Linked DNA regions of Homo sapiens: region 1 is linked to region 2. A link means that fine-mapping ties the variant in region 2 to the expression of a gene that starts in the linked region. Tissue or cell type: whole blood. Region 2 holds a variant in brackets; the other region holds the start of a gene. All regions are shown on one strand. Distances are from middle to middle. Region 1 holds the start of CD59 (CD59 molecule (CD59 blood group)). Region 2 holds the start of C11orf91 (chromosome 11 open reading frame 91).

Region 1 (5,374 bases), 35 kb after region 2:
ACAGACTGAAGAATTTTAAGGCTAGAAGTGTCCTCAAAATAAAACCCAATGTTTTTATTTTATAGGAAATTAGTGGAGGCCCAGTGGGATGAAATTACCTGTCCCAAGGCAACATGTTAGTCGCAAAACCACCCTGGATGGATCTTGTTTCTATTCGCCAGGGGCTGGCAACTCACAAGATACCTAGTGTCAGCAATGTCAGAGAACTAGAGCTTTTGAACCCCAGGTCTGCGTGTCACCTTGGAGACATACACAATACCTGCTCTAGCCATGCCTGTTGAAGCGCCCAGACAAACATCCATCACTCAGTTCACGGAACAAATTACATCAGCAGGAAGAGACAAAGAGAAAACAACCATCATAACGGAAAAGGCTTTCCAATCCAGCCAAGGTTCTCATGCCAGGAATAACCACTCCAAAACTCTTTGTGTGATATACATATAAATTCTAGGGTACATGTGCAGGATGTGCAGATTTGTTTCATAGGTAAACGTGTACCATGGTGGTTTGCTGCACCTATCAACCCATCACCTAGGTATTAAGCCCAGCATGCATTAGCTGTTTTTCCTAATGCTCTATCCCCACCCACCCCACCTGCCGACAGGCGCCAGTGTGTGTTGTTCCCCTCCCTGTGTCCAAGTGTTCTCATTGGTCAGCTCCCACTTATTAGGCCAGAACTCTTTGGACCAAACAAATCTGCAGCTTCCCCTACAAGGGCCTTTCCTGCAGTTTGTTCCGGAATGCCAATCCCTAACTCTCCAAAGAGTCCTATCTCCGCACTCACGGCCCCTCCCGTGTTAAGTACACATGCAAAACCAAGGTTTAGTGAATATGTTTCCTAAGATATAGGACATAAGTAAAAAGAAGTCTTTGCCTTTAGAAAGCCTCAAGCACTTCTGGGCTTGGCAATGTCTGTGGCGGTTTGGCTGAGGTTCTTAAAGAGGTGGCCCAGAATTTTCCATGCTCTACTTTTCAAGAGCTTCTACCAGCAGCTGTCAAAGATGAATGCCATTAGGCACCCCACTCTCTCACCCTAAGATCCATTTTATTTAGGCTTTTATCTCCTAAGCCACTCAGCTAATGGGATGTTTTTCTTACAGCTAAGTTCAGCAAACAGTTTCTAGTTTCCACTGTGAAAATACAGAGGCCACAAGTTTTAGGACTGTTTGGCTTGTAGGGGAGGCAGCCTCCCTTTCTGCCTCTCCTTCATAAACTGCCACGTAAATAGCCACATTTTGGCAAACGTTGCCATCTCCCTCAACATTCGGGGCTCTGTGCCTTCTTCAGGGAACTGGGAGTAAACCGCCAGGAGTGGAGAACTTGAACAACTGCTCAGGGATCGCAGGGTACCTGAAATAATTAGCAGCCGCCGCGTTTGTGCTGAGCGCTTTCCGTCAATCATCTCAACCACCCTGTGAAGTGAAGCCTATTGTTTTACCCATCAAGTGCTGTTAAATACTTCCAGAAATGACCAGTGAAGAGCCTGGGTATCACTAAACGGCCATAAAAGGCACACTGCTTAATGTTGGTTTTTTTTGTTTGTTCTTTGTGGGTTTTGTTCGTTTTTGAGGCGGAGTCTCGCTCTTATTGCCCAGGCAGTAGGGCAATGGCGCGATCTCGGCTCACCGCTACCTCAGCCTCCCGGGTTAATGTTGTTTTTTGAAAAGTCAGCAGTCAGACTCTAAGAAGGGTGCGGCCCGAGCCGACCCAAGAAAACAAAACATCACGTTGTACTTAAAACGTCCGTTTCGGCCGGGCGCGGTGGCTCACACCTGTAATCCCAACACTTTGGGAGGCGGAGGCGGGCGGATCACGAGGTCAGGAATTCAAGATCAGCCTGACCAACATGGGAAAACCCCGTTTCTACTAAAAATACAAAATTTAGCCAGGCATGGTGGCGCATGCCTGTAATCCCAGCTACTCAGGAGGCTGTGGCAGGAGAATCGCTTGAACCCGGTACACGGAGGTTGCGGTGAACCCAGATCGCGCCACTGCACTCCAGCCTGGGCAACAGCGAAACTCCATCTCAAAAAAAAAAAAAAGTCCGTTTCGCCCGACACCTGCTTTTCAAAATTACACATTTAGACCGCGAGGGGAGAGAGGAACTGCCGTGACCACGGAGGGCTGGCCTTTCCCCCGGCGCAGTTTCTCTGGACCGCTAGAGCTTCCCTTGAGACGAAAGCGATGGCAGGGGCCCGGGTGCGAGGCTGCCCCCGAGGGAATGGGGGGCGCGACGGGGGTAACGGGGCTGCTTCTGGGAGAGGGCGCGCTCCCCGTTTCTCCTTCCTCGTAGATAAAATGAAGCCAGCGTTCGGCTAGGACACCGGGCCGCGGTGACGGGTTGGAAGGGCCAGGCCTCGGGAGGCTCGCCCGGCAGGGGTCGAGTGGAAAGCGAGGACGGGGGTAGCCCCCACAGACCCTCCGCCCGGGCCCAGACTGCCGCCGCCACCTCGGCTCGGCTCACCCAAACCCCAGCAGGCCTTCGGGCCTTCTTACCTGGCGGCGCCCAAGATCCTCTTCCAGCCTCGAGCCGCTTCTGCGCTCAGCCCCCGCATTCTTTCGCTCCAGCCCGCAAGGCTCCGCCCCCCGGCCCCGCCCCTCAGGATGCCCTTGCCCTCCCAGGCTCCCGGCTCCCGCACCGCGCAGCCGCACCTCGGCAGGAACCTCCTCCTCTCCCTCCACCCCCGCGCGGAGCTCAGCCTCCTGGCCCAGGTTCTGAGAAGGCCGGGTGGCCAGGACCCAATGAGCACCTTCAAAACCCCAGGGAACTGAAAGTTTGGGGCGTCCTCCTCGGATTTGCTATGGGACATAAAAACAGTAGGAAACTTCCAAAGACTTCTGATTTTCCCTTTTACTTTTTTTTTAAGTATATTAAAATGTTTTTCAAAACGTTTCTGTGCGTCTTGCTGGTGCCCTGGGTGCCCCAGGGCCTGGCTATCGGGCTATGCGGCCCTGCTGCAGTCTGAAGCTGCTTCCTACTGCGAGGCTTGGGCAGCATCCAAATAGCCATCAGCCACAGCCGCATCCGTATCCGTGCCTTGTGACTTGTTTGAGACCCAAACAAAATGTTATGCGTTTAAAAGCTTACTGGGCTGCTCGGGGACCAGTGTTTTGAATGAACCTCTTCGAGTGTCTCTATCAACTTAGCTGGTAGCTACTGTTCCCCAGCAGCCACCAGAGGCAGGGACAGAAGAGCAAGACCAGGGGATCCGCCTGCATGAGTCTGTCCCTTCAGGGTGGCCTCGCCTCAGGGACTGGATTGTAGGCATGGTTTCAATAACACAGCGGTGTGAAAGTTTAAGAGTTTTTAGTACTTACGGACCCTGGGTGGTACACAGCTTGCCTAGAGGACACACACACACACACACACACACACACACACACACACACGGAGATCAGGGAGAACAGGGAGAGGGAAGGGAGGAACGGACCTTTGGGCCAGCAACTTTATCCAGTTAGGTTTCCTCTGGAGAGCTCTAACTGGTGGATTTAAAAGCAAGCAGGTGAAAAGGCAGAGGTGGGAGGAACTTGAACCAGAGTTTGAAGCTGCAGTAGTGCCCTGTTATCACATCACTGCATGTTTATCTCTGGCCACCAGCTAGAGCCATTTGCGTGGGGTATAGTACTGGAAACTGTCAATGGTGACTGAGACTTGCTTCTGTTATTAAAAGTTAAACATATTCAAAAATGGATGCTGAGGTAACAAAAAATTATAAGCACTCACCAGAACCGCAACCACCATTTGGAACATTAGTTTTATGTGCAGATGTAATTAGAAGTTTCCATTTGCTATTATATTTGGAAAGTGTCCCACTCACTGCAGAACTGACTGTAAGAACGCCATAGGAGGGAGGGTGGGGCTACAGGCCAAAAGTACAAGTCTTCCTCCAAGAGGATGGCCTCTGTTAGAAAGCATGAGACACACTTTGAGGGTCAGGGTGAGAAGATATTACATCTCAGGGCTGCTTGTGTTGAACTGGTCAGGGAAGAAGGCATGAGATAAAATTTAAGCAGGGGGAATCATAGATTACTGAATGTCTTGCAGGGAAAATCATATAGTAACTGTCTTGACGCTTCTACTGTTATTCTGATGGCTTTGGGATGTCAGGGAATGAGTTCCATTTGGTGGTGCTCAAATCCTGGTATTCCTCTATACAAGTGGGAGTTTTTTAAATCAGGATGACTTGCTTTGATATTTAAAGCATGTCTCCTTAAAACAGCTAATACTGTATATTTCCCAAGATGGATTCCAAAGCTCTTTTGTGTACATACCTTACACACATCCTGTTAGCTATTCCTTCCTTGACACGCTTGGCTTCTGAGATGCCACTCTCTCCTAGTTTGGTTCCCTAGAATGGTTTCTTGACCATTCGGTCTTGAGATTCTTTTCCTTTACCCACTAATAATTTGGTGTCCCAGGATTAGACTGAGAACCATGGCTGTGTGTGCTCCCTGGGAGACTATAGTGTATCTACTCTTTTACCTTGGGATGTATGTTTGCAGATGATTCAAAAGTCTGTCTCCATCCCTGACCACTCCCCCTATCTTCATATTCATATCCAGCTGACTGCTGGACATCTCCACTTATATGTTCCACAGACATCTTGAACTTAATGTGCACAAATCTGAATTCATCTTTAAAGAGTGACTGCTTTTCCTGAATTTTTTTCATAAATGAAGACAGAAACCTAGGAATCAACGTTGACCTCTTCCACTCCCTCACATCTACTCAGCCATTCCTGCCTATTTTACCATTTCAATATCTCAATTTCATTCCTTTTTCACATTGCTACTGTGCTAATTCAGATCTGTAGTTTGCGTTGCTTGAGCCATTACAATTCCTTAATACCAGGTCCCCATGTTGCCCATGTCAATTCCTGCATCCCCTGCCCCTTCTCTGCTTGCCCTCCACACGGCTGCTAGAGACCTGGCTAGTTTACCTCTCCAGCCTCATGCCTCACTTTTCATTTTCCACTTCATTTTACCTTGTTATCATCATCCTTTTGTGAATACAATATGCCTGCAGCAGCCAGTATGCAACCATGATCGTCTTTGAGAGGAAAAGTCTTGTGCTAAGGATGGCAGGTCAGAAAGATGGAGCCAATCTGGACTGTTGATAACACCACTGTGCCATCATGTCAGCCTTGAACTAGCTACCTCTGACTATTCGCAAGAATAACCACCCCCAAACTATTTAAGCTACTGTTAATTTAGGTATTTGTCTTATTCTAGTGATATATCAAGCCTCAGAGAAATTAGTAAAAAAAATCAGTTGTGTTTTCAAGGGTCCTCAGAGCCAGAAATGGCCTTTTCACCACCAAAAGTAGAGTCTGGTTTGGGCAACATTAATGCCAACTGTTAAATTCCTGTTACG
Region 2 (5,361 bases):
CTTCTTCTTCTAATTTTTTTTTTTTTTTTTTTTTTTTGAGAGGGAGTCTCACTCTTTCACCCAGGTTGGAGTGCAGTGGCACAATCTTGGCTTACTGCAACCTCGGCCTCCTGGGTTCAAGCGATTCTCCTGCCTCATCCTCCCGAGTAGATGAGATTACAAATGTGTGCCACCAAGCCCGGCTCATTTTTGTATTTTAGTAGAGACAGGGTTTTACCATGTTGGTCAGGCTGGTCCTCAATGATCCTCTTGTTGGTCAGGCTCCTGACCTCAAATGATCCACCCGCATTGGCCCCCCCAAAGTGCTGAGATTACAAGTGCCAGCCACCACACCCGGCCCCTGGATTTCTTAACTATGTATTCGGTTAAGATTTCTTAACTATGAATACATAGTATTATGTATGTATTCATAGTTAAGAAATCCAGGACTTAGCAAAGCCCAGTTTTTCTAGGGACTGTCTTCCTTCCATGGCTATGAGAAAGGGTGCATTACAGTGTGTCTGATGAACTGAAGACCATTTCCATGGCCACACGGACCTAAGCATTTAGGTTATTTCATACTTCCCTTCTCTGTGTGGCAGGGGAAGCCAACTTAAGCCGTTATATACGATAGTTGGAATGATCTTTTTAGAACTATCTGCCCTTCTCCAGTGGTCAAGGACAAGCCTTAGCCAAAACAAGTGATGGGAAAGACAAAGTCTGCAGGACAACCTACCGCTACTGAAAGTTCTACTTTGCAATAGGTCCTTCTTGGAGTACAAGGCATTTAACAACTTTACCCTCCAACAGGGAGGAGTCATTCAGCTCGTAGGCTGAGGGATCCTGCCCGCATCAGCACACGTGGTCCAGAGCCCTAAGACTTCAGACGTAAGACCAGATATCAGCCCAGGATCCTGGTGAGAGAACTACCGGCGCCAAGGCCACAGAGTCCCAGGGGGGCTGCCCCCCAGCATTGAGAAGTGGAGTGTCCCAAAGCTGCCCTGGAAACGGCCTTGGGCCTTGTGGTTCTTGCACAACTCCCACCTCCCCCTACAGACAACTGACAGTCACCTTACTTCACCTTCCCCCCATGGAGAGCCCCGGTTTAGGACCGAACATTAAAGCTTAGGGACTGTCTGTGGTGGGTGGAGCTCCAGAGTACAGGGTAGGAGGATGACTGTGCAGGAGGATTAAAGTTCAGGACGGGGTGGTGGCGGATGGAGTTCCAGGTGTGGAGGCTCAGAGTCCAGATGACCCAAAGGGTTTAGGACGGAGGGAGGATGGAGTTTGGGACTAAGAGGCTCATGAAGTTCAGATCTGTGGTGGGGGGAGGAGTCGGTTAAGTCCAGGATAAGGGAGTCTGGGTGCTAGGGGATAGATTTTGGATCTGGGACTACTGGGGGCTGGAGTCAAACCAGGCTACATTTCGGGTCGGGGCACGGAGCCAAGGAGGGAGCTAGGGCAGGCTAAGGCTGGGCTCGGTGGCCCTGGCGAGGTCACGCACAGCTCTGGGAGTCGAAGCCGTCCCCAGTGATGGTGAGCAACTCCAGCTCCTTAATCCGGATCTCCAGCTCGCAGAGCTCCTCCGGGTGGGAGGCAGAGGCGAGCCTGGGGGTCGAGGGGCAGGGGACCAGGGGCGAGGCAACCACCTCAGGCCCCGGCGGCGGTGAGTAGAAGAAGCGCAGAGGCTCGTAGGGGATGGAGGCCAGGCCGGAGGGCCAGGGCGAGGGCCAGGGGCGCTCGCTGGAGGGACCCAGGCCGGGTGGTGGCGGGGGCGGGGGCGCCGGGGCGGGGAGCGCCTGGGACAGGGACCGGGCCCCCGCCGCCCCGCCCACTGGCGCCCCGCCCGCCTTCAGCGGCACGAAGAGCTTCTTCCAGATGTTGAAGTCGCTGAGCGGGGACGAGGAGATGCCGCGGTCGTACAGGGACGGGAAATAGAGGGGCGGAGCCGACCGCTGGCTCATGGTGGGGCTGTGGCTGCCGCGCCGCCCCTTTGGCATCGTTTGAATGAGGGTCTGCGTGGGAGGAACCCCGCGCCGGGAGACGCGCGCTCAGGCCCCGAGTCGCCGGGGTTTCGAGGTTCCACAAGCCCCGCCCCGATGGAGCGCGGCCCCACCCTTTCGCCTCAGCCCGGCCCCTAACAGGCGGGGTTCCAAAGCCCGGACGACCACGTCCCGGAACGCGGCCCCGCCCACCTCGGCTGGCCGCACCCCGCAGTTAGAAAGCCACGCCCCCTGGCTCGCCTCGCCTCGCCTCCCGTCCCTCGACTCCGCCCACCGCCTCGCTCTTGCTCTGCGACCCCGCTGGCTTCCGTTGTCATATCCCAGCATACCCTCATCCAGAACAGGCAGCGGGCCAGGGCTGCAGAAGAAAGCTTACTTCAGGCTTCCTCTCTTTCTCCCATGAGGGAGAAAAGTATTTCCTAGAAACCTGGCCCCTGCACCAGCAGACTTACCTCATTGCCTCACTGGCCGCGCCCACAGCAAAGAAGTCTGAGAAAATCAGTGTCTGATTTTTCATCCACTACTGTGGGAGG[C/T]AGACAAAGGAGAAGAGGATTGATTGGGAATGGCTGTTAGAGCCAACCTATGTATCTGCCAAACGTTAGCAGTGTTGAGGAAGATTCTAGAAAAGGGGATCCTCATCTGGTTTGTAATAGACCTGAAGGAGTGTTTTCAGTGAAATGCAGTTTAGTTCTCTTCCAAACACAGATATCACCAGGAGCTAACAGGCAACGAGCTAACCACCAAAAGGAAATCCTGTCCGCCCTACCTCAAATACTTCACCCATTGCTTATGAGCGATTTGGACATTTTGTCCAAAGGACATGACAGCTCATTTATGTGAGTAACCTGTATTAGCCATAGACTGAGGGGAAATAACTAATACATTTTCTTGAGAGCCTCTGCCTAATGATCACTGGTATGACTAGTGATGGGTGGAGGGCAGTTAAAGAGTCAGTATCAGCTTCACAAGTTAAATATATATATGCATATGTATCTGCACACACAGTGCAAAGTGTGTGTGTGTGTGTGTGTGTGTGTGTAGCAGCAAAGTGGAGAGAGTCAGATATTCAAGCTGGGTAGCCTTGGACAAGTTGCTTGACTTTTAAGTAGGTTTTCCATAAAATAGAAATAAGAAAACCAGGCTGCCTCATAGGGTTGTGATCAAACAGAAGACGGAACAGTGTGTGTGTGAAACACTTGAACTTGGACACTTTGTCCAAACACAAGAGGCAGCTGTCCCTACTAAGGGGCATGTCTGAAACTGGGAAGCTTTTTCTTCCCACACTGAGCTTCCCACACTTAGTTGTCACACGCAGTATTTGCTCTCTGACTTTGGCAGCCACCCATCATTGTTTATTCATACAAGTGATCACTAGGCTGAGGCTCTCAAGAAAATGTATTTCCCCTCAGTCTATGGCTAATACAGGCCATGTGCGATAGCTCAGCACCCAGCCTGTAATCCCAGCACTCTGGGAGTCTGAGGTGGGATCTCTTGAGGCCAAGAGTTTGAGAACAGCCAGGGGCAACATAGCGAGATTCTGTCTCTATAAAATAATTTAAAAAATTAACCAGGTGTGGTGGCATTTGCCTGGAGCCACTCAGGAGCTGAAGTGGGAGGATTTCTTGAACCAAGGAGGCTGAGGTTGAGGCTGCAGTGAGCCACAATCATAGCACTGCACTCCAGCCTGGGTGACAAGGCAGGACCCTGTCTCAAAATAAATAAAATAAAATAAAATAAAAAATACCCTTATCTTCCATTAGTTTCCCCCACATATTTAACTTCCCATAATTTACTGCCCAAGAAGCTCAAACCTCTTTTCCTTTGTCTTATCACTTTTCTACAATCGCCCATTGTTAAAATTGTATATAAGCTCTCAAGCCACTTCTTTGGGTTTTCACTTTGTTTCTGTAAGAACCCCATGTACCTGCGTAATAAACTTTGTCTTCTGTTAATCTGTCTTTGTCAGTTTAATTCTCAGGCCCCAGGCTCTGAACCTAAGAGATTAGAAGAAAAATTTTTTCACCCCTACAGAACCACAGTAATGGTAAGAACCAGGGTTTTGGACTCAAGACTTGGGACCAAACCCTGGATCCACTATGTATTTGGCTGTGCGGCTGAACCTTTCTCAACCTCATTTTTTCATCAATATAATGGGAATAGTAATGGCATCTACTTGCTTAGGTTGGCAAGACTAAGTGAGACAGTTTAAGTACCTGGCAATGGCTTGTGTTCAACATTAGCTCTTGTTATTACATATTAAAGGCCCTTAGAAGGAAAAGAGATTTTGCGTTATATTTTTTAAATGAAGCAATACAATCATTTTTTATGTATATATCTAGTTGAGGAGAAAAAATTACAGATTTTTTCCCCCTTACTCCAAGATAATCTAAACAGATTTTACTCTGGATGGCTTAATTATAACATAATCCATGAAGTTATAGCCAGGGGGTTAAATAAGAAGTTGATGACAAACTTGGTTTCTCTAACAAGTATGCAAGAAAACTCAAGTGCCACAATGAACACCCATAAACTGCTGTCAGGAGGCAAAGTCCCTATGAGGTAATAATAAACCCACGAGGTTAAGGCAAAACCCTACGGTTGTTTCTGCAAACAAATGTCCAGGAAACTCAAGTTTGTGATGAAAGAACAGTCTTGAATTCAACTTCAGCAGAACCTTTCCCTCCCTGGGCTCCAAAGCACTATGTCACCTACCTCTCCACTCAAATGCCCCATTAAGTACCATCCTGTTGGAGCTTCCTAACGCCCCTGCTCCCTGGTTTCATTTGGAACCAACTGAGAGACACAAGTCCCTCTTCGTTGATCAGGGTCAGTTGAAAGATGTAGCTGTCGGCCTGGTAGCCAGGTGGGCTTGCTAATCCTGCACCTCTACCTTAAGCTTACCCAGCGTGAGGCCAGGTTAGAAAGTCACAGGCCTTGGCAGCAGGCAGAGAGCCTTTACTGTCATAGTGAAGAGCTTGCCAAGGACAGGACTGATTCTTCCTCCAGCCTCACCTATCGGGGCAGTCATTGTTCCGCTGTCAGGAGGAGAGGGGCCAGAAGGGTCACACTGAAGAAATGTGACATGAGGGTGGAGGTTCCTGTCCAGCATTCTTCACTCTCTATTTAACCGAGGCTGACTCATTGCAGTTGGCACTAATTTTCCATTGCCACAGCCCTCTCCAGCCAGGAGGGCCTGGAGTACCTGAGGTGCTGTTTGCCGGGTTCCCTTGGTCCTCAGACTGCTCCCTTCAGAGAAAGCACAGAAAGCCTTCTCTGTCCCAAGGAGCCCCCCTTCCCCTCCCCCACTCCAGCTCTGCATCTGGACACACTGTCAGCCATCAGATCCTGACCAGGTGCTCAGCCTCTTTAGGGATATGTC

Evidence for each region. PIP is the estimated chance that this variant, and not a neighbour inherited with it, causes the effect.
Region 1: it holds the start of CD59, and the variant in region 2 is fine-mapped to the expression of CD59 in whole blood (TOPMed, PIP above 0.99).

Annotation. Positions count from the first base shown.
Region 1 is chr11:33,733,886-33,739,259 of GRCh38, forward strand. CD59 (CD59 molecule (CD59 blood group)) reads right to left here and starts at 2,538. Exons shown (of 4, transcript NM_000611.6): 1 at 2,497-2,538. RefSeq lists a silencer at 2,187-2,656.
Region 2 is chr11:33,698,762-33,704,122 of GRCh38, forward strand. C11orf91 (chromosome 11 open reading frame 91) reads right to left here and starts at 2,065. Exons shown (of 2, transcript NM_001166692.2): 1 at 1,484-2,065. The coding sequence starts at 1,979. CD59 (CD59 molecule (CD59 blood group)) reads right to left here. Exons shown (of 4, transcript NM_000611.6): 4 at 4,249-5,361. RefSeq lists silencers at 1,731-1,820, 2,001-2,240. The variant C/T (reference allele first, on the strand shown) is at 2,516.